Homo sapiens: one gene and its partners. The protein of the gene in region 1 interacts with the protein of each later gene in a pairwise test. Each region holds a gene or a part of one and is shown on either strand. Other genes may lie near its edges.

The links.
Region 2: the proteins of KCNE5 (region 1) and KCNG4 come close enough for resonance energy transfer, tested with the Homo sapiens proteins (one study listed by BioGRID).
Region 3: the proteins of KCNE5 (region 1) and KCNB1 come close enough for resonance energy transfer, tested with the Homo sapiens proteins (one study listed by BioGRID).

What each region holds. Positions count from the first base shown.
Region 1 is NC_000023.11:109,621,584-109,632,170, forward strand, and holds KCNE5 (potassium voltage-gated channel subfamily E regulatory beta subunit 5), read right to left. Parts: upstream 3,590-10,587; 5' UTR 3,438-3,589; coding exon 3,009-3,437; 3' UTR 2,117-3,008; downstream 1-2,116. UniProt on the Homo sapiens protein: Potassium channel ancillary subunit that is essential for generation of some native K(+) currents by virtue of formation of heteromeric ion channel complex with voltage-gated potassium (Kv) channel pore-forming alpha subunits.
Region 2 is NC_000016.10:84,234,671-84,246,507, reverse strand, and holds the start of KCNG4 (voltage-gated potassium channel regulatory subunit KCNG4), read left to right. Parts: upstream 1-6,495; 5' UTR 6,496-6,838; intron 6,839-8,982; 5' UTR 8,983-9,022; coding exon 9,023-9,778; intron 9,779-11,837. UniProt on the Homo sapiens protein: Regulatory subunit of the voltage-gated potassium (Kv) channel which, when coassembled with KCNB1, modulates the kinetics parameters of the heterotetrameric channel namely the time course of activation, deactivation and inactivation and on the voltage-dependence of activation.
Region 3 is NC_000020.11:49,361,541-49,369,906, reverse strand, and holds the end of KCNB1 (potassium voltage-gated channel subfamily B member 1), read left to right. Parts: 3' UTR 1-6,030; downstream 6,031-8,366. UniProt on the Homo sapiens protein: Voltage-gated potassium channel that mediates transmembrane potassium transport in excitable membranes, primarily in the brain, but also in the pancreas and cardiovascular system.

The DNA of each region.
Region 1 (10,587 bases):
CTTCATTATCTGGGAGACAGTTGAAAGTCTGAGAGTATTTGAAAAAAGCCACTAGAAAGTAAATTAAATCACTCTTCCCAGCCCACCTCACTTTTCTGACCAGGAGGGTTCTATAGCTACTCTCGCTACATGTTCTTCATGGGTACCCTAAGTCATCATAAAAAGGTTAAAATGTTTTTAAAAGCAGGAACATTTTCCATGGGATTTGTTTTCCACAGCTGGCACATTAATGTGTATTATGAGCACTGTCCTAACTGCTCCCAGCTTCTTTTATTTTTGGCAATATATTCTTTTAAATGTCTATGGGAAAATGGTACAAATGTGTTTACAAAATTTCAACACCTGAAGCAGTGATTATGCTTCATTATCAAAATAACCTTGAGGCCGGGCGTGGTGGCTCACGCCTGTAATCCCAACATTTTGGGAGGCCAAGGTGCGCAGATCACTTGAGGTCAGGAGTTTGAGACCAGCCTGGCCAACATGATGAATCCCCGTCTCTACTAAAAAAAAAAAAAAAAAAAAATTAGCCAGCGTGGTGGCGCAGGCTTTAGCCCTGCTACTCGGGAGGCTGAGGCAAGAGGATCGCTTGAACCTGGGAGGCAGAGGTTGCAGTGAGCCAAGATCACGACACTGCACTCCAGCCTGGGTGACAGAGCAAGACTCCGTCTCAATTTAAAAAATTAATAATAATAACCTTGAGTCCCCATTATGCCAGATAAATGAGTGACATTGTTTTACTTAGAATACAGGACTGAAGACCGCCCCGTCACATGTCCTCAGCATTGCTGTATATTGTGCCCTTCCTCCACATCCTCCCCAGGCCTCCCTGCCTGGCTGAAATGGCTCACACAGCTTCCCTTCTCTTTCTGTCATCGTCTTGGACTGCTGCCCAATCCCTGGCCCTCACCTTCAGGGGTGACCTTATGGCTGGAACGAGGACTGGAGAAGAGCCAATGGGGCAAGGCCAGTATAGCTTCAATGAGTGAATCCTGGAAATAAAAGTAAGTTCACTTAACTTATTAACAGTTCCAATAAAATGCTAGATGGGCTGGAAGGTAAGACCCAATGCCTTGAATGAGGTTTGTGTGTTATCAATGCATTTAAGTGACTGGTAATATATTTGTCCTGCTATCATTATCAGAGAACCCAGCTATATTTAAGCAAATTGGCTTACTTCTAAGAGGTGATTTTATGTGTGGTTGATGAAGCCCAAACAGCCATCATCAGATATAAGCATTTCAGCTGTAAGCAGGGAAGTTTCTGACAACCTTCTTGAGACAAGGAGAATAAATCAATACAACACACACCTCTAACTTTACCCATCATTGGTTAAGATTGCTCAGTTCAAGAATTTTCTCTTTGACTTCAGATTTACACTATTTGGTGGCTTCCTTGTCTTTTAATAAGCCACTTCAAAAAAGTTATTGGCTAGGTGCAGTGGCTCACACCTGTAATCCCAGCACTTTGGGAGGCCGAGACAGGCGGATCACTTGAGGTCAGGAGTTTGAGAACCTCCTGGCCAACATGGTGAAACCCCCCGTCTCTACTAAAAATACAAAAATTAACTGGGCATGATGGGGCACATCTGTAATCCCAGCTACTCAGGAGGCTACTTGGGAGGCTGAGGCAGGAGAATCGCTTGAACCCAGGAGGCAGAGGCTTCAGTAAGCCTTGATTGTGCCACTGTACTCCAGCCTGGGTGACACAGTGAGACTCTGTCTCAAAAAAAGTAAAATAAAAACAATTATTAAGGTGGCTTCTAAAAATTAGGTTTGATAATAGCTAAAAGGGATGGGCCTTAAAGGTTTTTTAAAGTGCATCCTGAAAGACTGCATTGTGATCTTTGAAAGTGCTTCAGAAATAAGAAAAAAGGAGGGATAAGTAATAAAGTAGGTATAACTTTTGAAACACTTGAAAAAACAACCCATTTAGCCATATAAACATTTTCTTCACCCATAATCACACATATCAAATTGGAACTGGTTACATAGATATAAATATCACAACCACCCAACCCCCAAATCCAAACATCATTTCCAAAAGCAAAAGAAAAAGGATTCCTTCTCCATATGGTACTGGGTCTTAAGGCTGGAATCTCTGAGAGAAGAGTCTTGCGTTATTGTTTAAACAACCTTTATTACCTGCCTCTGACATTCCCCAGGGTTACAGAGCAGGGGGCATCTGAGCCTCAAGTTCCACGGATGAAGCAGACACTGCAATAACAACTGAATCAATAGAGGAGAGGCATTTGGAAGTACTGGGGTGATACACCCAGTAATGGTAATCCTCAGCAGAAGATGGCATAGCTACCAAAAATCAGGCGTTACCACTGGGATGAAAACTGGGGAGGCAAGAAAATCATACGGTTGGAGTCATAGATCATTTCCCTCCCCGTTGAGCACTCCTCCCCCTTCCGTCCCCCATTAAGTTCATTCTATCCCACAGACTGGTCCTAGTGTCCTGCTAGCTCCCTGCTGAAAGAGAGAGGGAGGGAAAAGATGTCTGAGGTCTCTTCATTTCCTTTGTCTCTGTCCCTAAGGCAACTGGAAGCTGGAGCTGCTGCAGTCGGCCTGGCAAGCCCGTTGGCTCTGCAGAGTGAGCAGTCCCTGGCAGCCCCTGGAGCAGCTGCCAGTTAGACGGCCCAGAGTTCTGATAGAATGCATTGCTTCAGTTCAGTGCCAAGTGTTGGACGTGTTGGATTCAGTTCCCAGAGGGCTGGAGCGTGCTGTCAGGGCTGTCTGAAGACAAGAGAGCAGAGGCAGTTTAGTGCAGTTGGATGTGCGGGGTAGGGGTGGAGGCGCAGGGGTGAAGAGGGAGAAACTGGCCCGAATGGGTAAGGTGGTGCTTCTCCTTCCAGGGCCTTCCAGACAAGGTCTCCTGGCCTCTCACCATTATCTGGGCCTCAGATGAGGCGAACCCTGGAAGGGAGTTGGGGGTGGAAGGTGGGAGGCGCGCCCAGGGATGAGCGAGATGAGGAGGGCGCGAACCAGCAATCTGGGGCTGTGGTTTTAGACCCGCTCAGCGCCCTGGGCGAGGGCAGGCAGCCCCTCGGAGGCAAGCTGGCGGCGGCCCTCGGCCTGGGAGCCCGCGGCAGCCTCGGCGTCGGCGGTCAGGGCGCCTCCCGGGGCCCATTCGTGCTCGGCGCAAGCCTGGGACGGCTCGTCCTTGGCCTCGACGAGCTTACGGGAGCGGGTGTAGGCCAGGATGAGGCCTCCGGCCAAGCAGGCGTAGAAGATCATGATGAGCAGGATGTAGAGATAGGCGTCGTCGCCCTTGGCGCTGGTCACCTCGCGGCCCACGAAAGGGTCAGGCACGACCCCCATGCCCATGCTGGGACGAGGGCCAGCGCCCAAGCCGCTGGCATTACCCCGGTGGTGCAGCTCGAGCAACAGGCGGCTCAGAAGGGTTCGCAGCCGCTGGCTCTCGCTGCAGTTCATGGCTTTCGGGGAGTGACACGGCGGCTCCAGGACGCTGCTGACCTTTCCCCCTGGGCGAGGGGAAGCGAGCTAGCGAGCGGGCCGGCCGGCGGGCAGGGCTCAGCAGCGGAAACAGCGGTAGCACCCAGCTCTCCGGCGAGCGCGCAGTGGCTGGGGGCGCCGACGGCGGGGCCTCCTTATTCCCTCACTCCCGCCCCTCCTCCCCTTCCCCACCACGCCCCCTCCGGCCCGCGGCCGCCTCTTCCCAGGCTCTGGCTGTCTCGCTGCTCCAGGGAAAGGGGACAGCTGGTGGGGGGAGGAGAAGGGGACAAGAGTGGGGGCGAGGCTGGGAGACGGGCGGAGGGGGCGGGGGCTCGGAATGCGCGAGGCCCCAGGCAGCAGACGCTGGCAGGGCAGCTTGCTGGGGCCAAGCCTGGACCCTGGGCTGCGGAAGAGAATTCCTTCCAAGTTCTGGCCACCTGCCCTGCAGGCCAGGCTTTGGCCCAGATACAGCATTTGGCCCCCTAAGGCAGCTCTGCCTTGGGGCGCTCAAGGGAGAGGGCAGACGCCTTTCCGCAGCAGAGACCCCTTGTCCACATTTTATGGAAGTTACTCCCATATACAGGGACCCAGGCCTATCTTTCTAGTCCTCATTCCTTTCCTTTTCCCCCCGCCCCCCTTTTCACCCCCCTCCCACCTTGTCGGAGGAGAGCATCTTATTCAGAAGATGCTCAGGCTGAATTTGGTGACTGAGTGCTCAGGCACCTGCTAGAAGGCCAAGGCAGAGTAGAACTCCCTGGTTATCCAAAATGGTTTCTGGTGATATAAGTGATATTACACCTTCTTGGAAGCACCCCTGCTCTGATGTCCTATGACACTTTTTGAAAAGTCAACACATCTTAGCACATGAATGTACTATTCATAATGGGAGCCTGTTTCCCATGGGTAAGTAAGCCATCTTCCCAGAAGTGAAACCAAGTTCTTCCAATAAGAGTAGCATGCACATTTTAAAAGGCCCTTTGACTACACTCTGTGGATATCTCGGGATCTGAAAAGTGCCAGTTCTAGAGAATATGCTCACCCTACTCCCAGTTAGGCCAGCAAACAGCTGTGTGCCTCTCTAGACTTGGTAACAGGTCTAGGCCCTAATGGCTTTTAGGGCAGCCATTTTTTTCTCAAAGGCTGTCTTTTTTTAGGGGAAAACAAGGCACCAAGACAAAGATCAGGCCAGATATGTTAAATTGGAAACAGACTGAGCTTCACAAAGGAAAAGGGTTGGTTTGTAGATGGTGGGGTAGAAAAAATGAGGTAGTGCTGGCTAGGTCTGGTTGTCCATAGTTGCCAAATGAGAGCAGAAAGCAAGAAAAGTGTATGACCTTAGGCACACCTTGAAAATAATGCTGCCTGTTCAAGACCGTTCAGTCCAGGGACCATTCAATCTATAGGTGCCATGGGTTAAAAAAGGAAGGTTTTCCGATGCCTCTTCCCCAACCGTTCTTCAGCCCACCATCCACCCAGGGGCTGTAGCCTTCTGTGTGTTCAGGTGAGGTTGGCACCAAACTGTATCCAGGGTCTCAAACAGAGCCTTGCTTCACAGCCTCTAAACAGGCCTCAGAGACATTCCACATGACCCTGACACTGGCTCCCTTCTAATCACCTTGCCTCAATATTCTCACCTCAGAGGGCCTCAGGAAAGAATTGTTAAAGCAACTTGGCAGGATGAATGCCAGAGGACACAGCCAGAGAATTTTCAAAGCACTGCTAACCTAGTGATATGACTGTTGAGCTAAAAAGACTTCTCTTATCTGTTAAAACAGGAGTCCCCAACCTCCCAGGCTGCTGGACCTTGGCCTGTTAGGAACCAGCCGCACAGAAAGAGGTGAGCAGAGGGCAAGTGAGCATTATCGCCTGAGCTACACCTCCTGTCAGATCAGCAGTGGCATTAGAGTCTCAGAAGAGCTCAAACCGTATTGTGAACTGCGCATGCCATGGATCTACAATTGCATGCTCTTTATGAGAATCTAATGCCTGATGATCTGAAGTGAAACAGTTTCATCCTGAAACTATCCACCCCTCCCCAGTGTCCATGAAAAAAATTGTCTTCCACAAAACCAGTCTCTGGTGCCAAAAAGGTTGAGGACTGCTGTGTTAACATATACCTAGAAATAGCTAGGGTTTTTTTTTTTTTTTTTGAGAGGAAAGGAGGAAGAAACCCCTTTACTGTAACATACAAATAATCATTTAAACTTGTTTTCTAATTTCAACAGCCTTATGAGCTAATAGGATTCTCATTTTCCAAAGAGGAAACTGAGGTTCAGACTGGTTAAGTAGCAGGACTGGAATTATAAAGTTTGACCTTCTTCTTCTCAGTCCTCACACATTACTTGTGTCAAATGGGTGGTATTCATGAGCTACCTCCATTTTCCCACCTCTCCCTCCTCTTGAACCTTCTAGAGTCCAGTGCTTTCTGCCAAAACTACTTTCTATAAGTCAGTTCACCAGTGACCTCCGGGTCAAATTCAGGGGTCTCTGCTCCCTTTGCATCTTTGACCTCGAGGATGAATTTGAAACCATCAACCACCCACTCCTTCCTGTAACTGTCCTACCCTTGGCTCTTGTGGCATTGCATTCTCAAATTTCTCTTCTTATCTCTCTGACCCACCATTCTCTGCCTCCTTTGCTGGCTCCCCTTCTTTCCTCCTCCCATTAACTGTTGGAATCCCCAAAGACTCAGTCCTCAGCTATTCTCTCTCAACACCCATTTCCTTGAAGAGTGTCTCTTACATGGTTTCACCTACCACTTGGCATATATTTAGCCAAATTTGAATCTCTAGCTCTGATTCTTGGTAGCATGTCTCAGATCCCTCTGCTCCTTCCTTTCTGGTTTTATTGCCACAAGCTTAATCCATGTTCTCATTACCTCAGGTCAAATATGCAAACAGAGAATCTCCTGGCTTACAGCTGAATCTATCATGTTATGGTTAGAATAATTCTCCAACACCACTTCTATCAATTCAGCCCTATGTTCAGAAACCCAGGAGTTGTTACTCATTGATTCTTTAACAGAGTTTAGTCTTCTGTGGTGGAACTTAAGTTCTCACCACCAATAGACACCATCTTCTCCCCTTTGAATTTGAAAAACAGCATCTTCCTGGAGTTCCTCTGCAATACTCTGTGCATTTTGCCTTCCTCAAAATTCGTTGACTGAAAGAAGCCTTGCTCTATGCCCCTGTTTGTGCTTTCAGATTCTTCACAATGCACCCTTCTGAGCTTTACTTTGCAGCATTCAATGCAGAAATCTTGGAAAACACAAAAAAGCAACAAGGAAAATTTTGGAAATCTTGGAAAACACAAAAAAGCGACAAGAGAAAAGAACGAAAAATTATCAATGGTGCATACTCATGACTCTCTCTCTCAAATCTCTCTCTCTCTCTCTCTCTCATGTTTCATGGCCTTTTTCCCTTAAAAACATACTGTAAATTTTTCCATGTCATTTACTATTTCTCCATAGCGTTATTTTTTGTTGTTGTTTTTGTTTTTTTTAGAGTAGATCACTTACAAATTTTATTTTTTAAAGAACATCTTTTCCCCAGCCACAGTATAGTTATAAGCTAAGAATAATTTCCAATATTGCACAATGAATGCATCCAGATCCTGCAATATTGATCAAAAGAGTGGATTAAAATGGAATATGATAGCAATTTCATGGAAGTCTCCCTTTCTAAATACTGACTCCTTAGTGTTATTTTATTGTCTACACAGTACTCCAGACTATGGATCTACCATAACTTATTTAACTTTGCCATTTATTGTAATATTTCTGTTATTTTCATGTTTTGCTATTAAAATAATGTTTTAATAAACACAACGCTACTTCTAGTTTTATTGAAAGAAATCACTACCAGAGAGAAGTCAACCTACTAATTTATAGAAGAATGGCATGGGGAGGGATAGATGTGTAAAAGCGGGTGGAAATAGAAACGGAGAATAGTCATAAAATTTAAAAAGGCCCAGCACTCCAAAAAAAACAACAGGTGTGGGGTGGAGGGGATCCTGGCTTTCTTTTCACACTAGGGGCTGATGGGCATCCTTTAAATCTCAGTTCCAGGCCAGCCTGGAATGGCTGAGATGCTAACCCCTTTCCCTACCACACTTAATGAAACTGCAAATCCACCAGATGGGCACTGGTTCTCATTCCTCACCACCCCTCCACCCCCATTTTCCACGAGCCCCATACCTGTCAAATAATCATCTGTTTATCCATCACCTGGAACTCATTTCCAAAATGGTAATCAAGGGTGTTGACAAAGGGAAGTAATTTACAATCATGTATTTAGACTTTCAAAGAGTCTCGGGAAAGGTTCTCTTCCATGCCAAGTTTGTTTTAAAAGTACAATTGAGGCGCCATGGATAGGAAATGCTTTCCCCATTCCTTGAGACTGTGAGTGCTTCCTGCCAACAGTGCAGCTCTATGGAAGTTGGTTGAATTGAACTGAGTTGAGTTTGGCTAGTTGCCAAAGGACAGACACAGATGGTAAGCACTGTCGGAGTCCAGAAGGCTGGCAAAGCCACAGTGGGCTCTAAAGGAGAGAAAGAAAGAAGGCTTCATGAGGCACCAACTAAAGACTGAGAAGGAATCATTCATTCATTCATTCATTCATTCAACAAATATTTATTACATGTTACTTTGTGTGAAGCACTGTGCTGGGTCCTAGAGACACATCGGTGAGCAAGTCACATCGGTGAACAGTCTGTGCCTTTATAACTCTCACAGACAACTTCTTTGTGAACTGGGGACAAATAGGGAGTGCCAGGATGTGGAGCTGGGTAAGTAGTGGGCAGGACGACCAGCCAGAATTTGGAGAGAACTGAGACTCTGGGCCCAATCTCTAAGCACTAGAGTCCAAAGCCTTGTTTGGAAAAAGGAAGACTCCAGGTGGTCTGAGCTCACTGTCCCAGGCTATGCTGCAAGCTTCTCTACCTCCTCCTAGCAGCACAATCTTGAGGGTATGGTTTGCCATAAGCCACCACAGTAGGTCTGTTCTCAAAAGACTGATGAGAATAAATTAGACGGTTCCTTAATCCAACTGGGGCTTCTCAGTTTTTCCATGGGAATATACACAGCATTTCAGACTAACTGGGGTTTGATAAAGATCACAATATTTGTAGGTTGGAATGGGCCTCAGGAGCTTCAAATGCCTTACTTAGAGACTTCTTGGAGATCTTCGTGGGCTTGTGCTGATATCCTCCTATATTCAGGCCACATACTGGAGCATCAAATTTGGTCCCTGATTTCATTTATCAAGTGTCTAGCATATGCCAGGCATATTACATACATTATACTAATTAACCCTATAACAACCTTATGAGGTGGGCAGGTATGGATTCAACAGCAGTATATCTTCAATGCTGGTCAATCAGAATGGACTAACAAACCATCAGAATAGATTTTGACTGTGAACAACCAGTATGGCCTTACAGAGCCACAACATCCTTGGGCAAAGAAGTAGGACAGAGGCACAGACTAAATGGCTTCCCATTTCCCAGGGGATCAAACCAAGATCTCATCTCCTTAGGCTTTGGGGCTGTCCTGGTCATTCTGAACCTCTCTTTATGGATGCTTCCAGCTGCTCCCGTTGCTCATTGCAGGTACCTGAAAAGCTCCCTTGCCTGCCAACCCCCGTAAAGCAATGGCATCTATCACACCTGCCCCTTTCTCCCAGTAAATTCCTAAAGATGTCACTCCTTGGCTCAAAATTCTTGAATGGGTCCACTAGACTTCCAAATGATCACCTTACTGTGGCCTTCAAGACTCTCTGTGCTCCGGCCTGAAGATGCTGTCCAACCCTACTTACAGCACTAATTACCCAAAATGTCTTCAATGCCACACACCTTCTCAACTAGATGAAATCTCACTGTCCTTAGCAATCTCATAGCGTAGAATAATAGTGACGGATGGGCTCATCAGATGGCCCCTACAGACCTCATGAGGGCAGGTGCTGTGTTCTTCCTCTTTGTACCCCTCACCATGCCTGGCACAGTGCCTGGCACATAATATGTGCTCAGGAAATTTTTACCTAGGTCTGAGGTCTGCCTTCCCGTAATGAAACTTACCAACTTTGAAAAAGATTCACTCTGTGGGGACTGTGAAACTTTGAAGTTACATTTTTCCAAAAAAAAGTATATATTGTGTAAAATTTCAAACATATAGCGACATTGACAGAATTTTACAGAGGATATCTAGTAACCACCTAGATTCTACCACTAATATTTTCCTATACTGGCTTTATTCATCCCTCACCTATCCACTCCTCCCTCTATCTATTTGTCTATTCATTATCTTTTTTTTTTTTGAAGTTGCATACATCAGTATGCACTTCACTCCTAAGCACTTTCTCCATACCTATCATTAACTATAGTCCAATATTTGTTTATTATTCTTTTTTCCTTTTGAAGTAAAATATACATACAATGAGATATATAAATATTAACTGCATATTTTCTGAGTTTTGGTAAATGTAACCCCTACTAAGATAAAGACTACTACTCAAGAACATGTCCTCTCATCCTTTCATAGGCAATCCTCTCCCTTCACTCCCAGAGGCAGCCACTGTTTTTTTTCCGTCATTGATTAGTTTTGCCTGTTATAGAAGCTCATATATATGGAATCATAAGGCATGGACTTTTTTGAATAAGACTTACTTTACTCAGCTTAATGTTTTTGAGGCTCATGCTAATACATGATACATAATGATACATAATTCACATATATGATACATAAATCATGACACATGCTGTTGCGAGTATCAGTAGTTTGTTCCTTTTTATTACTGAGTGGTACTCCACTGTGTGACCATACCACAGTTTGTTTATCCATTCTCCTACTGATGAACACTTGGTCTGTTTCCAACTTCTGGCTATTAAAAATAAAGCTGCTCTAAATGTTCTCATATAATTCCTTTTGTGGACATATGTTTTCCTTTTTCTTGGGTAAATACCTAGGTGTGGAAATGCTGGGTCATGGGAAAGATGTACTTTAGTTTTATAAGAAATTGCCAGACATTTTCCCAAAGTGGCTTGTATCATTTTAGACTCCCACCAACAGTGTGAGAGGATTCCCATTGTTTATGGTTACTTGTGCAGCTCTCTGCTTCAATTGCATACTTAGCCT
Region 2 (11,837 bases), on another chromosome or scaffold:
TTGCTCTGTGTGTCTTGCTGGGCCTTGACGGCGGTGTGTATAGATTCTCCTGATTCTTTTGAACAGCTGCAGTTTTCTCTTGCCTTTATGACCATCATTTATTTAGCCAGTCCCTTAATGAGGGATATTTTGGTCATTTCCAACCCACCACTATCACAAACAACACTGTAATGTTATATACGTCTTTGTACACATGAGCAAGTATAGCTGCAAAATAAATCCCTAGACCTGTGACTGCAGGTCAGAGGAGGTCTGCATCTCTTACTTTGATCAATCGCGCCAAATTGCCCTTTAAAAGGACTGCACCCATTTACACTGCCTCCAGCAATATCTAAGCAGCTCAAATGAGCTCTTGAAAATGCCTATCTGATCACGATCCTCCTAATTGAAAGCCACCCGTCCCCATCTCTGACTGCACGGCAGAATTCCGAAGAGACATCAAAGCAACCCTATAAGTAAGGCCCCAACCCCTGAGGTTCTGACTGAGTTAAGATGTGGCCCAGTCATTGGAGATTTTTTTAAGCTCCCCAGGTGATTCTAGAATGTTCCAGGGTAGCGAACCACAGCTATAAATTCACTAGGGGTTCCCCATGCCTATTCCCACCACATAAAGTCCACGCTCCTCAGCAAAATAGAGAAGGCCTTTCATTTTCTGATGCCCACCTGCCTCTCTGCCCTTCTTCTTCGTACTTGCCACTTCATGTCCAACTCTCTGGTCCTGCCGAATCCGTTTCAGCTTCCCAGAAGCACCGTGTTCTCCAGCTCATCTGCCTTGACTCAACCTGCCCCTTCTGCCAGTACCCGCTTCTCCACCTTGCTAGCTGCTGCTCACCCCCCAAGGTTTGATTAACCAGGGATTCTATCTTTAGGAGCATCCGCTGACCTTCCTGGGGAGCAACAGTCACAGTGATGTACTAGGGGCCACAGGCACAGGCTTGCGAGAGCCGATCCTTAGCATCTCTTCCCAACTCCCTGTTCAACGATGCTGTTGTTGGCTCGACACTGGCCATGACAGGGGTACTTACGCCACAGCAACTGGCAACCACCACGCGTCAGGAGCTTTTTTCTTTCCCCCAGAAAGCCAGCTATTATCAATTAATATCACGCAGGTGTTACAAAGCTCCTCTGCACGCTCATGGCAGCCTGGGATTTCATCGACTGCAGCTCCTCTCATGCTGTTATCAGGAGACTTTCAGACCCTGTAATAATAGATAGCACTGAAGATGGTGAAAATAATAATGGCTAGCACTTACTGAGTATATGTGTGTGCCGGACACTGAAATGAAGGCCTTACGTGCATGTGTTCATTTGCTCCTTACGACAACCCTGAGAGGCGAGGACTATCCTGACCTCTGCTGTCCCAAGGCACAGAGAGGAAAGGTGACTTGCCTGAGGTCACACAGCCAGTGAGCAACATAGCCATGACAGTTGATGGTCAATGTATGTCCTGTGGAGGGAGGGATCCTAACTTCTGCAAGCAGGTGCTGGGTGGCCTGGCTAGATAGACAAGGCAGGGCCTTATCCTCAGCAAATTGCAAATATCCTTGATGGTTTGTGACTGGCCTATCCCCTCCTTCAGGCAGGAATGTATTAGTTAGCTATGGCTGCTATAACAAAAGCCATCAACTTAGTGGCTTAAAATAATGCAAATTTAATATCTTACAGTTCTGGAGGCCAGAAGTCTAAAATGAGTCTTACGGCGCTAAAATCCAGGTATCTGCAGGGCCATGTTCCCTCCTGGAGGCTCCAGGGGAGAATTTATTCATTGTCTTTTCCAGCTTTTAGAGGTCACCTGCATTCCCTGGCTCATTGCCCCTTTCTCCATCTTCAAAGCCAGCAGTGTCTGATTGAGTGCTTCCTCACATCACTCTCTCACACTCTCTTTTCTGCCTCCCTCTTCCACATTTAAGGACCCATGACGACATTGGGCCCACCTGCTGAATTCAGGATACTCTCACTACTTAAGATCAGCTGATGAGCACCCTTAATTCCATCTGCAACCTTAATTCCCCTTTGCCATGTCAAGTAACACACGTGCAGCTTCAGGAACTGGGACATAGACATCTTCTGAGGCTGATATTCTGCCTCTCACAGGGCTCCCCCTTTTCTTGCTCCATTTTGTGGGACAAAGACAACTCCCTCTTCTGAAGGACACTTCAAGAAAGAGCCAGGCCTTGGTGACATCTGACTAAGAAGGTAAGAGCTAGATGTGATCACATCCACCAATTTGGGGACTTGGGGTCCTCCTACCAAAACAGTACAGAGAGATATGCTCAGTCTAATTTTGATGATGATGATGGTTGAGGTATTAGGTACAGCAGGGCGAGTTCTATGGGCTTTACAGAAGTTAACTCTGGGTCAATGGGAACTCTTCTTCTTCCTGTGGCTTCCTCTGCTACTCCTCCTCACCCATAGCCCAATGCAGCCACCAGCCCCACTTCTACATGATGTTACAAGGCCAGCACCCACTACCATGCCAAAGTCTCCATGTCTTTGGGTCCAAATTCTCAGGAGAGAGAGAGAGCAAATTTGATTGGTTCATCTCAGCCTATGGGTGAAGCCCTCTTAGGGTAGGTGTCCTTCCTTTGTCTGATTGGACAAAAAAATCTTGGTTCTATCTGATTGGCTGGGGCCAGGAGGCGGTGTACTGGCTATAAATACATCTGTGATAGGCAGAATAATGCCCCCCCAACCCTGCAAAATGCCCATGCAACCTGTAAATATGGAAATAAGTTCCTTTGCATGGCAAAAGGGACTTTGCAGTTGTGATTAAGAATCTTAAGACTGGAAGACAATCCCAAATTATCCAGGGGGCTCAATGTAATCACAAGTGTCCTTACAAGGGAAAGAGGAGGAGGAGAATCAGAGATGGAGATAAGAGCACAGAAGCAGAGGTCGGAGCGATGTAACTGCAGGCTTTGAAGATGGAGAAGGGGCCACAAGTCAGGGGATGCAGGAGGCCTCTAGGAGCTGGAGAGGGTACGGAAACGGAGTCTGCCCTAGAGCCTCCGGAAAAATCCCAGTCCTGCCAACACCTTGACTTTATCCCTGTAAGACCCCTTTTAGACTTCTGGCCTCCAGAACTGTAAGAGAATACATTTGCTTTTTTTTTTTTTTTTTTTTTTCTGAGAAGGAGTCTAGCTCTGTCACCAGGCTGGAGTGCAGTGGCGTGATCTCGGCTCACTGCAACCTCCGCCTCCTGGGTTCAAGTGATTCTCCTGCCTCAGCCTCCCAAGTAGCTGGGATTACAGGCACGCACCGCCACACCCAGCTAATTTTTGTATTTTTAGTAGAGACGAGGTTTCACCATGTTGTCCAGGATAGTCTCGATCTCCTGACCTCGTGATCCACCCACCTTGGCCTCCCAAAGTGCTGAGATTACAGGCAGAAACCACCGCACCCAACCAAATTTGCATTATTTAAAGCTTCTACATTGGTGTTATTTATTACTGCAGCCATAAGAAGCTCACACGTAGTCACTATGGCTCATCCCTTGATCAGAAAAATGTGGCAGAAGACATCTGGGTGGGGCATTTCTACGTATGCCTCGAGTTCCAGGCTTCCAGGACGCCAGGAGGATGGGAGATGGGTTACTGGCCCTGATTAGCTGAGGTCAAGTGTCCATACCCGGGAGGGACACTGGGTACAAGAAGACAGTAGCACTAAGCCAAAAGGTGGCTGGGACTTCACAAAGACCTGAAGAAGGGCTTAGTGGATGCCCTGGGGAAAGGGCTGACGGGACTGAACACCAGGCTGAGGGAAAAGTCCTACAACCTGGGCAAAGTGTATTGACAGAAGGCACTGAGCTGTGGAAAGAGCACTGGACTGTGAGTCCACACTGAGCCTGGCAGTGCCATCCACTGGCTGGGAGGGCTCAGGCAGGGCTCTCCCCTTCACTGGGTCTGAGTTCCTCTATAGGTAAAATGAGGGACCTGCACTAGGTCAGTAAATCAAGCCTTCTTTTAGAAAAGTTTTTGAACAGCAGACTCCTGTATTTACCTAAATCTTTCTTGGGTAATTTGGGGAAAAAAAATTGCTAAGATGGTAATCATAGCCGGGCACGGTAGCTCACACCTGTAATCCCAGCACTTTGGGAGGCAGAGGCAGGTGGATCACTTGAAGCCAGGAGATCAAGACCAGCCTGGCCAACATGGGGAAACCCTGTCTTTACTAAAAAAACAAAAATTAGCTGGGTATGGTGGCAGGTGCCTGTAATCCCAGCTACTCAGGAGGCTGAGGATCAAGAATTGCTCGAACCCGGAGACGGAGGCTCCAGTGAACCAAGATCTTGCCACTTCACTCCAGCCTGGGCAACAGAGCGAGACTCCATCTCAAAAAAAAAAAAAAAAAAAAAAAAGATAATCATAATAATAGCAAGCATTTGAATAGATAGGACTCACTTTTGTGACAGGCAGTCTTCTAAGAGCCTTATCAATGTAAATTGATTTGTTCAAAACTCACAACAAATCGATAGATGCTGTCATCTTCAGGTCACAGACAAAAAAATTTAAGGCACAGAGAGGTTAAGAAATTTGCTCAAGGTCACCCAGCAGGGAATTGGTAAATTCTTGATTTGAACCCATATACTCAGGATCCAGAGAGAACTGAGAGGAATGGGGATAAGTTAGGGGAGATTTAACCAGAAAGGCTAAATCCAGACAAATAAGAAACAGCTGAGAGAGGTGGGGAGACAGCTGGGGTAGGAGGAGGAATCATGAGCTGGAAAGACAATTCTGAAGACTCTTCTAAGAGCACCATTGGAGCAGCTGTGGGGTCTGAGGAACACGGGAGTCAGTGGAAGGAGGGAAGGAAACTTCTCCATTACTGGCAGGTGCTCTGGGATCTCTTTGAGTGGCTCTGTGTGGACACTGGACCATGCTGGGCCACAGCCTTTATTGGGGTTACACTTACAGTCTTATGGAGACAGATCAGAGTGCAGCTGCCATGGCTGAGGTAGCAGGTCCAGGGGTTCATCCTCCCCGTTGTCACTGCCCCAGGCCAGGCCCCTCAATCATTTCTGCAGAGCCCTAAGGCTTCAAGCAATACCATTTGAAAACCGCAATACCAGATGGACCTCCATTCAGTCAGTTCTCTTCTCTGCTTGGATTCGTTCCCATTGCCAAGGCCACAGAGAGCCCACCTAGGTCAGCAGCACCTGTCATCCCCTTGCAGGCAGCTGTGGAAGGCTCACCCTCTAATCTCCCTCACTCCTGGATCCTCCCATCAAAACTCAAGCGTCTGTTAAGTGATGGTTCTTTTTTTTTTTTTTTTTTTTTGAGACAGAGTCTCACTTTGTCACCCAGGCTGGAGTGTAGTGGCGCGACCTCAGCTCACTGCAACCTCCGCCTCCCGGATTCAAGCAATTCTCCTGCCTCAGCCTCCCGAGTAGCTGGGATTACAGGCACCCGCCACCATGCCCAGCTAATTTTTGTATTTTTAGTAGAGACAGGGTTTCAGTACGTTGGCCAGGCTGGTCTCAAACTCCTGACCTTGTGATCTGCCCGCCTCCGCCTCCAAAGTTCTGGGATGACAGCTGTGAGCCACCACACCCGGCCTAAGTGATGGTTCTAACCAGCAAGATGACCTTGAGCAAGCCTCTTCTCAGGGCCTCAACTATCAAATGCAGTGAAGATAACACATTCAGAAGCCAAGAGCCTGGGCTGCAAAACCTCTTAAGAAAGTGAAGAACAGTCAACGTGTAGTGAGCAACTACAAGATGCTGGTTTTACAATTGCAGCCATCGCTGGTTTCACTGTCCTCATTTGACTGAGAAACCCAAGGCCCAGAGAGGGGAAGTGACTGACCAAGAACACACAGCCAGGCAGTGCAGAGTCCAAGTTCACACCCAGGCCCTGGACTGATGCCTCTTCCTTTTCACCCACCCAACCATCCAACCAGCACAGGAGCTTGCACTTATGGTTCTGACCTTCCCTGAACCCTCTCTCATTCCCATGTTTTAGAGACAAGACAATTGAGGCTCAGAAGCACTAACTCACCTGGCCAAGGTCACCCAGCCTTTCACATAGGAGCCAGGATCCAGGCATGTGTGTGAATTCCAAGCTCGGAGCTCTTCCTATTGCTGTTCTGTAACACAGCCCCCCTGACTCCCACCCAGCGCTCAGAGCCTGGGCTTCTGTCTGAACCTGTCCCAGGCCTGGGCTGCTTAAAAGCAGCAAAAAGTTCCTCCTGCAGCTTCAACTTGAGCCTGTCACCATCATCAGCATACCCCGAGAGACTCTGGGGTGCCTGGGACAGGTAGCTGCAGATGCCTCCGGCCCCAAGTTGCCCTCTGCTCCTCCCGAGTTGTGCTCCTCCATGCCAGAGGAGGGAGGACAGCTCCCCTTGCCTCCTAGGCGGTTGGCAGAGTGGCAGCGGCTGCTGCTTCTTCCTGCTGCTGGCTGATGGAGAGATTATTTCTAAGCCCTTCCCATTCCACACCCCCCCACACTGGCTGTCCCCGTGGGACTTGAAGTGCAGAGTCCGCTGCTCAACCAGGACAGCTGCCCTGGCTCCCTCCCAGCAAGAACCCCCAGACCCTCATCTCTCATAAGGAAAGGGACTTCTGGGTCCTTTAAAAAAAAAAAAAAATCCCACCTCAATCCCCCAGGGCTCTCCTGCAGCTGCTGGAGAGAGAGATGCAGAATGAATGAACTTCTGGTTTCTGGAGGAGGCACGGGAAGAAAGATTGGAAACTGACTCTGCTAGAAACTGCTGTTTTGGGGATTTTTTTCTTCCCCTTCATCTCCACCAGAAACCTGTCCCTTCCCTGGGCACCAAGAGATGGGCTCCCCTTGCCTGGCAGAGAAACAGCTGGAAACTGGCTCCCTGAGACAAGAAGGTGAGTTAAACTGGAGGGGAAGAGTTACTGCTTGCTGTAGGGTGGGCGGGGGCCAGGGGGAAGTTGACGCTGTTAGACATCCTTGGCAAAAGTGCTGGTTTGAGTGAATTCCTTTCCCGTGCTCCAGAAGGAGCTGTTTGCCAGCTGTTTGGAGAGCCGTAGATGGCAAAATTGGGTTTATTCAGTGAATGCAGAAAGGGCAGTTTTCAGGTTCTGGAAGGAGCCCCAGGCTGGGGGACAGAGTGCTGGGTTGGATTCGGATTTGCTGTGTGACCTTGGACAAGTTACTTCCGCTCGCTGGGTCTTGGTTTTTGCACTGGGAAAATGAGGAAGCTTGCAAAGGGCTCCCCAGATTTCAAAATACTCTTCTCTCTGCAGGCTCCTCATCCTCCTCTGGCCATTCCCTGTGAGCAAAGTAATGCATTCAGAGCAACAGAATGTTGTGTAGGGAGCAAGAGTGTGAAATAGGTTACGATTCACTCTCCACTATCCACCGGAATCCAACCGGCTCTGAAATTGAGAGGAACTTTGATTTCCGTTCCACTGCCGAGTTTTTCTCTTGATTGGAGTGGAGTGCATCTGAAAATGTAAGCTTATAGATGCTTTGGAAATGGCTTTGGCTAGAATGAATAGCATAAGAAATGGTTGCAGGATCTGAAGGTGAGAAATATTATGAAAAGGACTTTTTAAATATGTGAAGTGGCTAAATCTAAAACACTCACACTAAGTCAAGCACCTCATATAGGTCTGAAATGGAGACAGCATTAGAGGCCCCGTCATTTTTTTTTGTTTTTTTCTTTTTGAGATGGAGTCTCGCTCTGTTGTCCAGGCTGGAGTGCAATGGCGCAATCTCGGCTTACTGCAGCCTCCGCCTCCCGGGTTCAAGCGATTCTCCTGCCTCAGCCTCCCGAGTAGCTGGGACTACAGGTACATGCCACCTTGCCTAGCTAATTTTTGTATTTTTAGTAGATACAGGGTTTCATTGGCCAGGCTGGTCTCGAACTCCTGACCTCAGATGATCTGCCTGCCTCTGCCTCGCAAAGTGCTGGGATTACAGGCATGAACCACTGCGGCTGGAGGCCCCTTCATTCTGCACATAAAAGCCTGCGGGCCCAGAGAGGGGGAGTAACTGGCTGGAGGTCACACAGCAAGGATGGCTGAGGCAAGCACGCAACGAACATGGAGGAGTACTGTGATTGCAAGTACGCAATGCTCCTCCGTCCCCTTAGCAAAGGCCTCCCCAAATGGGGAAGCGACCAAGAGGGATTAAGCGAGACTGGTGGAGTTCCTCCTGAGACCTAGATGCTTGGATGCTCGCTAAGCATAGTCACATTCCTGGGCTACTCGAACCTTTAATAACAGACCCTCGCTGAACCTTCCTGATGTCAGGTGCTTGCTAAACAGTAGGCAAGACACGCAAACCTTCCGTGCGTCAGCCTCCTTATCTATAAAGTGGAGCTCTTATGTCTACTTCATGAGGTTGTTGAGGTGAGTTAGGGGAAGCCAGGCATGTCAGAAGCATCTAGAAGTATTATTAATACACACTTTCTTGTATATTACTGCATATAACCCTTGCCATGCCCTACGATGTGGGCACTCAGACTGCCCCAGTCATACAGATAAAGCAAAGGACTCAGAGACACTGAGTAACCCACCTGTGCTGGCAGTCTGTAAGGGATCGGTCCCTGCCAGTGAACCTGAGAGCCTACATTCTTAAGCTCTATTTTTACTACCTGTACCTTGCAAGATTAGTATGAGTCTTGTCATTTGAATGAATGATGCTGAGATCAGAGAGGTTAAGCCACATACCTGAGACCACAGAGCCCAGAAGTGGCACCGCTCCGACTTGTCCAGCTCAGGACTGAATTACTCAAGCCCCCATCCGTGCAACGTCTATTCTGGAGACATCCTTCTGAGATGTCGGTAGAGGTTCCACCAGGGAAGGGTTTTTTTCACTGATGTATCCCAAGCACATAGTAGGTGCTCAATAAATATGTGTTGAACTAAAGGTTAAAAGAACAAGCCATGCAGATGCAGTCACAGGAAAGCACACGTAAGAACATCTGCAGTCGTGACATCCAGGACTCTTTGCCCCAAGACTGATTTCCCTTCCTTTTGCTTGCTCTTTGTCCCTTGGGTGTCAGACTGGTAAACCCAGCGCTTCCTACCTGGTGGTCTTCAGCAATGCCCATGCCTTCCAGAGACGGGGGCCTGCATCCCAGACACCACCACTATGGTTCCCACAGCCCTTGGAGTCAGCTCCTGTCCAGCCCCATGGAGACGCCGTCCATCAAGGGCCTTTACTACCGGAGGGTGCGGAAGGTGGGTGCCCTGGACGCCTCCCCAGTGGACCTGAAGAAGGAGATCCTGATCAACGTGGGGGGCAGGAGGTATCTCCTCCCCTGGAGCACACTGGACCGGTTCCCGCTGAGCCGCCTGAGCAAACTCAGGCTCTGTCGGAGCTACGAGGAGATCGTGCAGCTCTGCGATGATTACGACGAGGACAGCCAGGAGTTCTTCTTCGACAGGAGCCCCAGCGCCTTCGGGGTGATCGTGAGCTTCCTGGCGGCCGGGAAGCTGGTGCTTCTGCAGGAGATGTGCGCGCTGTCCTTCCAGGAGGAGCTGGCCTACTGGGGCATCGAGGAGGCCCACCTGGAGAGGTGCTGCCTGCGGAAGCTGCTGAGGAAGCTGGAGGAGCTGGAGGAGCTGGCCAAGCTGCACAGGGAGGACGTACTGAGGCAGCAGAGGGAGACCCGCCGCCCCGCCTCGCACTCCTCGCGCTGGGGCCTGTGCATGAACCGGCTGCGCGAGATGGTGGAAAACCCGCAGTCCGGGCTGCCCGGGAAGGTCTTCGCTTGCCTCTCCATCCTCTTCGTGGCCACCACAGCCGTCAGCCTGTGTGTCAGCACCATGCCCGACCTCAGGGCAGAGGAGGACCAGGTGAGCGGCCTCTGATGGCATTCACGGCTCCATCCCGCAGGGTGCCTGGGCGGAGATGTCTTTTAGGGGCCCAAGAAAATGTCTTCAGATCTTAAAATAAGAAGAAAAAAATGAATATTATCCAACATGGGTTATATTCATTATTAGGCCATCAGTCATAAAAGATAATTTTCCATCTTTTTTTTTTTTATTGGAGTCCTGCAAAGGCAAAAGTGCCTAAGGCTCACCGTGAAAATCATTACGTGGCCCTCAGCCATGCGTGGACTCAGTGGGCCACACAGACACAGTGTCACCTCTCCCAGCTCTCCCGAGTCTGTGACTACAGGCAAATCACGCCACCTCCTCTCTGAGCCTGTCTCCCACTCCGTGAAATGGGTAACATCACCTCGAAGGTTTACTCACCCAGTGAACTCAACATGTGTTTACTGAACACCACTCTGTGCTAAGCCCTAGAGCAGGTCAAAAACATAAAATCCCTGCCTTCTTGAGCTAACATTCTCCTGGGCATCCCCACTCCATTTTCAGATGAGGAAACTGAGGCATGGGCCATTTATTTTCCTCGGAGCTCCACAGTAAGGATGCCAATGATGCAAAGGTCCCCGGCCTCAGTTTCCCTGCAGTGCTCAGTGTCTGGGCCAGTCTCACTGGATGGGAAACTCACAGATGAGCTGATCTGTAAGTCACTCTGCCCCAGGAGGCCAGAGTAAAAAGTGCTGCTTGCCCACACCTTCGTCCCCTTTGCAGGGAGTTACAGGAGACCCCGAGACACCCTCCCTCCACTCGGGAGCCAGATGGTCTGAGAAGTGAAATAAGAACCTAGCATTTGGTTGAGAGGGTTATTGGAAAGCTTCAAACAGAGAATTAGATTGTTTCCTGATTTAAAAAATCACTCCTCTCCAGCACCGAGCTCCCCCAGGGCTGCCCATCATCTTAATGTTTGGAGCTTGCCTTGTAATCAACAGAGAGAGAAACTAAACACATACGTAAGATGGTGCTTGCTCTATTTGGCTCCTAACAGTTGCCAGCCCACCTAAGTTCTCTTCGCTTAAAGATATGTCCCAGGGCAAGACAACAGGATCAGAGAACTTGCCAGATAGAAAAGACTTAAATGGAGAACCAGCCCATGCCTCACAGACAGTAGGATCCCAGTAAATATGGGTTGAATAAAATGTGTCTTGTCCAACCTACAAAAGTTTGGCCCTAAAAAAACCCACAAAATATTTGGACCTTTAAACAGCTTGTTTTCCCATGGAGAAGATGACAATGCCAATCATAGGCATTTTTTCATTCTACAGCATAAAAACATGAGATTTAAGAGCCTGCTTGTTCACAGAAATATTTATGTGTGGACTCTGCAGTACAAAGATTAAGACAAAACAAGTGACCTCCCTACCCCATTTCTTAAGGGTGCCCTGATCCCAGTTAATAAAGAAAGGCCCCTGGATGCTCACAAGCCTGTTCCTCTTACAGATTTCCAGAGAAGGGAGAAATTGTGTAGGAGCCAGGATTTCGGTTGCGCAGACGGCCAAGATCTTTTCAAAACCTAATGCTTTGAAAATTACGCAGGGTATGAACCCAGGCCTGGCTTAACAGTGACTCAGGAAATCAAATTAGAGGGGAGAGGTGGGCCCGCAGACCTGCGCAGCCAAAGTTTCAGCCGAGGATCAGGCAGCCACGTCTCCTCCTGGGACAAGAGAGATTTATGCCCGGGCCCAGCCACAATATCTTTATGCTTTCTCCTTAGTGAAAGCATCTTTGTGTGTGTGCCCAGAGACAGGCTGAGGTGCTGCCCAGAGAGTGTCTGTGTTTCCGTTTAGATAATAATTCAGAGAGCAGGGAGGCTGAGGACGGGGCAGTCTTTGTTCTCCCAAGACGGTGACCTTACATTTACGTAAAAGGATGATGTCCTCTTCCTGGACACACGTGCTTTGTATTCCTTATTTGCCCTCAGGGAATGTCAATCTGAGAGGGACCAGCTGCTTCTGGGGACAGGCAGTGCCCATTGAGTTTGGGGCCAGTGTCCTGTAAATTGACCCTGATACCATCCACGCTGAAGAAT
Region 3 (8,366 bases), on another chromosome or scaffold:
TTAATATGTATACACCCAACCTGTACCTATGTACGTGAATATACATGCACTGGGAAATCTACTTAAGAGTCTTCACTGAGAAGTTCACTCGATAGAAAGGTCTTGATAGAGAAGAGAAGAGGAAAGCAATGGTCTGAAGGCAAATCCTGCTTTAACTTGGTGGTCCATTTCCCATTCATTCCTGAACCAATGAGAGCAGAAAGAAACAAGTCAACCCAAACAAGCAAACTAGGGGCTGGACGCGGCGAATGGATGCTGGTCAGTTTGGCAAATTCACTGAAACTCATCAAGAACCCAGCTGAACTTGCATTCCAACTTCCACAATTATCTGAAAGGGCTAGGGACCAGGTAGCCATGTGTCCCAATCACACGGGGGAGAGTCTGCCACCGGCGGTGAGAGAGGTGGGGAAGCTTTGGAGGAGACAGTATATTCACCTTTTTATCTTTGGGTAAAAGAAACCAACAGGACTTTGGTGCAGTAGATTTCTCAGTGCCTTCTTTAGGAATTCTATCTTAAGCACACTTCAAGGGGAAAGAAAAAAGGAGGAGAGAACATTTGTTCCCGTGAAGTCCCTTTCTCCAAAGGACTGGGGATCAAGAAGGAAGAAGAGTAAGAAGGAAAAACAACAAAATCCTGAGGAGGCCATTTCTTTTAACCCACCCAGCTTGCCCCTGAAAACTGCTGGTGATACAAACTTTTTCAAACTGACTTCCAGCTTCTCCATGTGTCTTGGTAACTGTAGCCTCGTCTCTGCCCTTTCTCCTAATAAGATCCATGTTTCTAAGGAGAAAAACAAAACAGTATTCTCTTCTGTAAAACTGTAATGTATTGTTGATATTTGTAACTATTGTATATTTCTGTCTTGCTCCAGTCCCAGCTGGAGTGTCTAGTTCCATGGACAAGGGGATATTTAAAATTCACCACGGACAAGAGCCACTAAAGCCAGGTCTCTATCGCTAATCTCTCTCCTATTCTTATTTCTCTACCAACTAATCTCAAGTAACAATACCCCAGGCTTTTTTTCAGCCTCAATTCAAGTAACTTTGAATCAAAAGAGAGCAAGGCAAAAAGCCTCCGGACATGCTTCTTTGGGAAAGGACTTTTTCTGTAGCTGCAGAGTGGGCAGGAGGGAGAAGGGGCTCCCCTGAGACCCCGGCAGGACAATGGAAAGCTTCCAGCCCCGAGCTGATGTTTCCTCACCTATCACTGCTTATAGGACAGCATCCAAATGCTTTCATGTCACTCAGCCCAGGCAACCCAAACCAGTCCTGGCTACACCCAGAAATAAGAGTTACCTCTGCATTTTCTGTTGCCATTTTTCTGGCTCTAGAAGTATCTGATGCGCGACTATGTCATAGAATGTCCACGCATCTCAGAGTAGTCTATTTTTCTGTTCAGATAAAATATATATATATATGTATTTTTAGCAAATTTATAATAGGGCAATTGAGTCTAATTTCTTCTTTTGTAATACAGAACAATATCTTAGGAGTTTCATTGTTGGTCATTATCGTAGCTGATGTTTTCTGGTCTTTTGCAGTTCCTACCATTGTCCCTTGGGCTGTTTGGGTTTTCTTCCTTTTGATTCTGATTTCTTGAGGGTGGGGAAAGACTTTGGGGTTTGACTTCCTTGTGTAGGCATTTCTTGACACTAGGCCTGGACTCTGTCAATGCTGTGACTTTCCTCATTCATTTCTGTGTGTTTCTCCCATTCGTTGTTCTTAAGAATCCAGGGCATGAATGCAGGAATGAGACCCAGGGAAGCAGAGCTACAGATGGCCCTCAAAATCAGGATGGGATGTGGGCTGGTTTCACTTATATCCCACACCCCTTTAGGGATCTGAAGGGACTGAGTTTTCTCATCCCCAGAGATCTTGGAACCAAAAATCTCATGCAAGCAAACTCATCACTGGCATTTCTGAGATCCAGAACACATGTGAGTCCCTCCTGGCTGGGCTGCTCCCACATGTCCAGCACCCTGTCGGCCTGTAACATCAATCAGAGCTGAAGGTCAGAGGTTTTTCAGGTTCTCGTGAACCTCACAAGAACATGCTGGGCCTCCGATCTCACCAACTTGTTTATCAGTTCCTTGTTTCGATCTGTTTATTTATTTATTTTTTTGTTATTATTATTTTGAGACAAAGTCTTGCTCTGTTGCCCAGGCTGCAGTGCAATGGCGCAATCTCGGCTCACTGCAACCTCCTCCACCCAGGTTCAAGTGATTCTCATGTCTCAGCCTCCTGAGTAACTGGGATTACAAGAGCGCACCATCACGCCCAGCTAATTTTTGTATTTTTAGTAGAGGCAGAGTTTCTCCATGTTGGCCAGGCTGGTCTTGAACTCCTGACCTCAGGTGATCTGCCTGCCTCGGCCTCCCAGTGCTAGGATTACAGGTGTGAGCCACCACTGCACCCAGTCCATTTCAATCCATTTCTAACAGCTTCACCAAAAAACAGTGGCCAGACACCCTTGCAGCCAAACCCTGAGAAGAGATGTCCCCGAATCTGCTAGCTCATCTCCCCTTCCCTTGCCAGCTGCCTGGCTCCATAGAGCAGGAGGTGTGTGGCAAGGACAGGGGCAGTTTTCCAGCTTCCACCTATCCACGCCTGGGGGAGTTTTTGGACTGTCCTGATAATTAATTCCAGAGGCAGTTTTCAGTCCTGGGTGGGCGGAGGACATCTCACTAGGCAGGATCTTCAGCAGAAAGTGATTCTCCATCCGTCAACTCATGCAGGAAGATGAAGAAAGCCCAGATAATCTCCAACTTGCATTCGTTTAGGTTTTGGTATACCACCCACCTCACTGTCAGCTGCAGGGCTTGGGGCTCTGCCTAGAATCAGAAATTTGAGCCAAACTGGGACCCTCAGATGGCAGTGAGCCATCCCATCAGATAACTCCCAAGAGGAAGCCAACTCAAATATGAATTTTATTATTCTGGACTATGACCCTGATCAGAGTTCTCCCACCCCGAAAACCTCTGATAGTCTGGTTTGAACCAGAGTCAAATAAAACAGACAAGATTTTTTTTTCCTCTGCACAAAAGCAAAAAAACAAAACAAAAAAAAGTCTGCCAGTAGTTTCCTGGGTTTGATGCCCAGATAAGCAAACACTGTTGCCTATGGCTGTTGCTGTTTTCATCAAGAAAGAGGTTATATAGTTTGCATTTCCATCCACTCTCCCTGATTTTATCTTAACCTAGAATTTCTCCTGAACTACCCCAAATGCCAACTTGAATTTGGGTAGGGCTCTGTTAATCGAGGGAACCCTCATCTTCACTTATAAACCTAATTCTCTGTTCCTCCCTCCAAAGATCCTGAAAAGATCTCCTAAAGGCTGGCCAGGATGGGGTGGAGTGGGGCAGTGCACCTGAAGAAAAAAACTTAGCTGCCAGCTGGCTGTATGCAAGTTCTCCGAAAATTTCTATTGTATGAAAGGGATGGGGTCAATTGCAGCTCAAATTAAGGAAGCCCTCCTAACAGGCTGGGTTGTCTGACCATGGAGCTCAATGCCATGGTGGACAGTGAGCTCCCTTATATCACAGGTGTTTAAAGAGAGGCTGGCTAGATGGTGTAAAAAATGGGCATTGCAGAGGGGCCCTAGCATTGCATGGAAACTGGGCTGAACAACCACAGAAATTCCTCTTTGTTTCTTGGAGTGTGTGTGTGTGTGTGTGTGTGTGTGTGTGTGTGTGTGTGTGTAGGTGGTTTCAACACTCTGGATATAAGCTCAAGCCACTGAGGCAAAGGCATGCAGCACAATTAGCAGGAATGCAACTTCTGGGCTTTGGAGCTCTCAGAGGGGGTGTCCAAGAGACAAGTCTGCTTCCTTCCGGCTCCGTCTTGGAACATTTTAATGACTGTCAGTCACCAATCCAACCCATCCCCAGTGGCCTACCAGGCACCACATTGGGATGAGACTCATGCTACCCTTCCCCAGGCCAGCCAAGGAGCAATCCACGCTGTCCCCCATCCCTGGCTGGCTGTCTTATGGTGCTTCAGCCCCTCCGCCCAGCTCCTGTGCCCTCATGAGCCTGGGGCTTTCTGTATAAAAGATGCAATGATATCTGTTCCCCACTAGCCATCCCCACAATGAACAACTTCCCAGGCAATAGCAAATGGCTCCATTCCAAAAGGGCTTGTTTTTTTGGTAAATCAAATAAGAGACCCCACTCAAGACCTTTGAAAGTCCCCGTCAATGAAAAAAATCCAGAAGGGTCAAAAGAGAAAGGCAGCTTTTAATCCAGTTTCACAGCAAAACCAGGCTCTTGGCTGCCTCCAAGCAGAATGCCACTCTCCTGCAGCTGTGGCCTCCATCCCAAATCATCCTGCATACTGCATTCTCTAAGGAAAGCATTTGACAAGAGAGGGTTTATGTATGGTGGATTGGGAGAAAGTGAGACTTCAACCTCAGGGTGAACCGAAGACTGGTTTGTCTTTGGTTGTTTTAGTATGAGGTTGGGCAGGATGATATGTTTGGATGGGTAGAATGAGCAGCCGCCTTCCTCTGAAACCAAAATAAAATAAAAACCAGTTTTCAAGATTCCTCCCAACTCCTCACTGGAGGCTCTGCCCTGCAGAATCACTCAAGTTGCAACAACACAAGGAGACAAAAATAGGATATTTCATGAAAATATAAGAAACTCCCAATTCCGTCCCATTAGGATGCCCTCAAGGGGCCATGCAGGGATCTTCCCATACTTCCTGCTTCCCTGATCTGAACCAAGATTGGAAAGAGGCAGGCAGCAGAGAAGATGCCCAAGAAACTCTGACATATCCACAGCTTGGCTCTGCCCCTTGGGCTTCACTGGGGTTTGGGCCTCCCTCTTGGTTGAGCTGAGTGTGCCTGAGTGGGTGGGGACAGGGAGGATTCTCCAGGTCTATCTTGATTTCATAGGTCCTTCTCAATCCAAGGTCAAAAACTGAGAATCTTATTTTCTGCACCAGGAACTCAGGGTTATCCCCAACCTATGCCGCTGGCACATGATGGTCATCCAACCTGTGTTTTTGTGAGTGAGTGAATGTGTGACTGGTTGGCCTCTGAGTGGATGACTGGATGCGTGAATGTGTGAGTGAATGGGGGAGTTAATGAATCCCTACCTAACTGTGAAGAGAAGAAAAATGAGGAGCCCCTCTCCCACTGAAACCCATAACTGCCCCATCAAGGTCATCTTTCTTTGACTCAAGATGACATCTCAATTTGATGCTTGTAGGCCCCAAGCTGATAAGGGCCACAGCCCTCTCAGAGCCACACTTCCTGGGGGCCCACAGAGCAGCTCTGCCCTCCTTCCTCTTCCCCTACCCTGCATTTCTCAGCCTCATGTTCTATTTTAGCTCACACACGACCCATGGGGGGGACCACCAAGTGGTTTTCCAATGGACTAAGCCAAGGGTTCGAAGTTGGGACTTCCTTTGGTCTGGGACTTCCTGGGGCAGAAACATAGGAGCCAACATCTGGAAACTGGATTGCATTCCCTGAGCCATGGGAGTCCAGCTGGATATTAAGGCCAGCCTGCCCTCCAGCTTTTAGAGCCGAAGATCTTTTTTTCTGAGCCCCAAAGCCGTCATGATAGTATGCCCCCAGATCCCATCAGCTAAGACCCTGTCTCTCCCAGGAACCCGTCGTGTGAGGTTGGGGCTTTTCTGCCAGTAAAGCCATTCTGATCACCTCACCCTTGACAGGGGCCAAGCCAATCACATTAGCCATAAATGACCAATGTCCTCAGCCACTCTTTTCTCGGGGGTGCATTCGTGGGTCCTATTCATCTCTCGTCAGTTAATGTCTCTAGTCCTTCCTGTAAAGGTGAAAATAAGCATTGCGCATGTGCGCAACACACACGCACACACACACACACACACACACACACAAATCCCAGTGTCTTTTTATGCATGTGGTGAGATGAAATTGTGATCTTTGTGTGACCTCCAGCTGCTGTCTTGTCTTGTAAAATATGTCCAAATGTTTAAGAATTTCTAAGCAAATGGTCCCTTAATGAAGTCTGCAGAGTTCAATAAAAGGTATGGAAAAAACAAGCCTGGAGGAGTTTATTTTTTGGAGGGCACAGGGAGGCGAGATGGGAAGCGCTGTAAGGGGACTTGAATCAGGAATCCTGTCTCCAGGCGGCATCAGCTTTCTCTCTTCCCCCCAGAAGAGGGAGGACATGAAAATATAACTGGCTTTTCACCCCCACTATGCAACCCAGTGGTAACCCATCCTACATGATATTCATGAATCAAAGTTCCAACTCTGGTCATTTAGTTCTCATGTCAACTATGCCTGGGCATCTCATTAAAAACTGTCTCACAATAGAAGGCATAAGCTCAAATGACTACTGGGGCAGAGCAGGTAACATAAATGAGTAAAGCAACTTAACTAAGAGACTTAAGGGGGTGGTGGTGAGTGTGATAAAAAACAGAACACACACCCTGTCTAAAGGGGTGAACACCATTCATCTCCAGCTGGTTGTTACCCCATAGGGATGTGGGCCCAGCAATATTAGATCTTTCTAAGAGAAGTCAGAAATCTGGATTTTTAAAGGAAATACCCAACTTTTAAATGTTAGCAACTATGGCTGGGCATGTGGCTCACAACTGAAATCCCAGGACTTTGGGAGGCCAAGGCGGAGTTCGAGACCAACCTGGCCAGCATGATGAAATCCTGTCTCTGCTAAAAGATAAAATAAATAAAAAATAAAAATAAATAAACATTAGTGATTAATTCCATTTTTTGTAGTCCTGTACTGGCCAAAGGAAATATATCTGTAGGCAGACCAGAGCCCATAGGCTACCTTTCTGTGATCTCTGCCTTACTGATAGGGCTCAAAGATTTCTATATTTGTTTTTGGGAGGTTTTTTGTTGTTGTTTTTGAAACATAGTCTCACTCTGTTGCCCAGGATGGAGTGCAGTGGCACAATCTCTGCTCGCTGCAGCCTCCACCTGCCGAGTTCAAGCAATTCTCGTGACTCAGCCTCCAGAGTAGCTAGGATTACAGGCATGTGCCACCACACCTGGCTAATTTTTTGTATTTTTTAATAGAGACAGGGTTTTGCCATGTTGGCCAGGCTGGTCTTGAACTCCTGGCCTCAAGTGATACACCCACCTCAGCCTCTCAAAGTACAGAGATTACAGGCATGAGCCACTGTGCCCAGCCTTCTGTATTTATCTACTGCTGTGTAACAAATTACCCCCCAAACTCTAGCAAGTTGAACCATTTATTATCTCATGGTTTTTGTGGGTCAGGAATTCAGGAGCATCTTTAGCTGAGTGGTTCTGGCTAGGGGTCTCTCACAAGGTTGCAATCAAGACACCAGCTGCAGTCCTCTGCTTGACTGGGATGGAAGACCTGCCTCTAAGTTGGCTGAGGAGGCCTCAGTTCCTTACTGGCTGTTGGCAGGAGGCCTCAGTTGCTCACCATGTGGACTTCTCCATAGGGCTCTTGAATATCCTCACAGCATGGAAGCTGGCATCCCCCAGGGGCAGTGGTCCAAGAGAGAGGGGTAAGGAGAAAGGCACAATGCGTCTTGTGGCCTAGTCTCAGAAATCAGAAACCATCACTCGCACCAAATTCTATTTGTTAGCAGTGAGTCACCAAATCTGGTTCACACTTAGAGAGAGGTAATTCTACCTCTTGGGGAAAAAGGATCAAATATTTTGTGGACATATTTTAAAATCATTACCTTTCAAAAGCCCATTGAGTGAAAAGGGTAGTTTCCAGACTTTAGGATTTCATAGCCCAGTAAAAAAAAAAAATTTATTCTTATTTGTCTAGAGATGTGGTCTCACTCTGACACCCAGGCTGGGGAACAGTGGTGCAGTCTTAGCTCACTGCAGCCTCGAAATCCTGGACACAAGCCACCCTTTTGCCTCAGCCTTCCAAGTAGCTGGGACTACAAGTACCTACCACCATGCCCGGATAATTTTTTATTCAGCTTAGAGAAGTGTATAAGGCTTGCTGACATTTTATTTTGCCAAGTAAAGATGTGGAAAAAATGACTATCATGTACTATATATTATCTTAGTAAAACAAAGGATATATCAAACCCATAAAATATACAACCTCAGAATAAAGACCATCCTGAAAAAAAAAAAACTTCTATTCTTTCTTTCTTTCTCTCTTTCTCTCTCTCTCTCTTTCTCTCTCTCTCTCTCTTGCTCTCTCTCTCTCTTTCTTTCTTTCTTCTTTCTTTCTTGAGACTGAGTTTTGCTCTGTCGCCCAGGCTGGAGTGCAGTGGCACGGTCTCGGCTCACTGCAATCTCTGTCTCCCAGGTTCAAGCAATTCTCCTGCCTCCTGTAGCTGGGATTACAAGCACCCGCCACCACACCTGGCTAATTTTTGTATTTTTGGTAGAGAGGGGGTTTCACCATGTT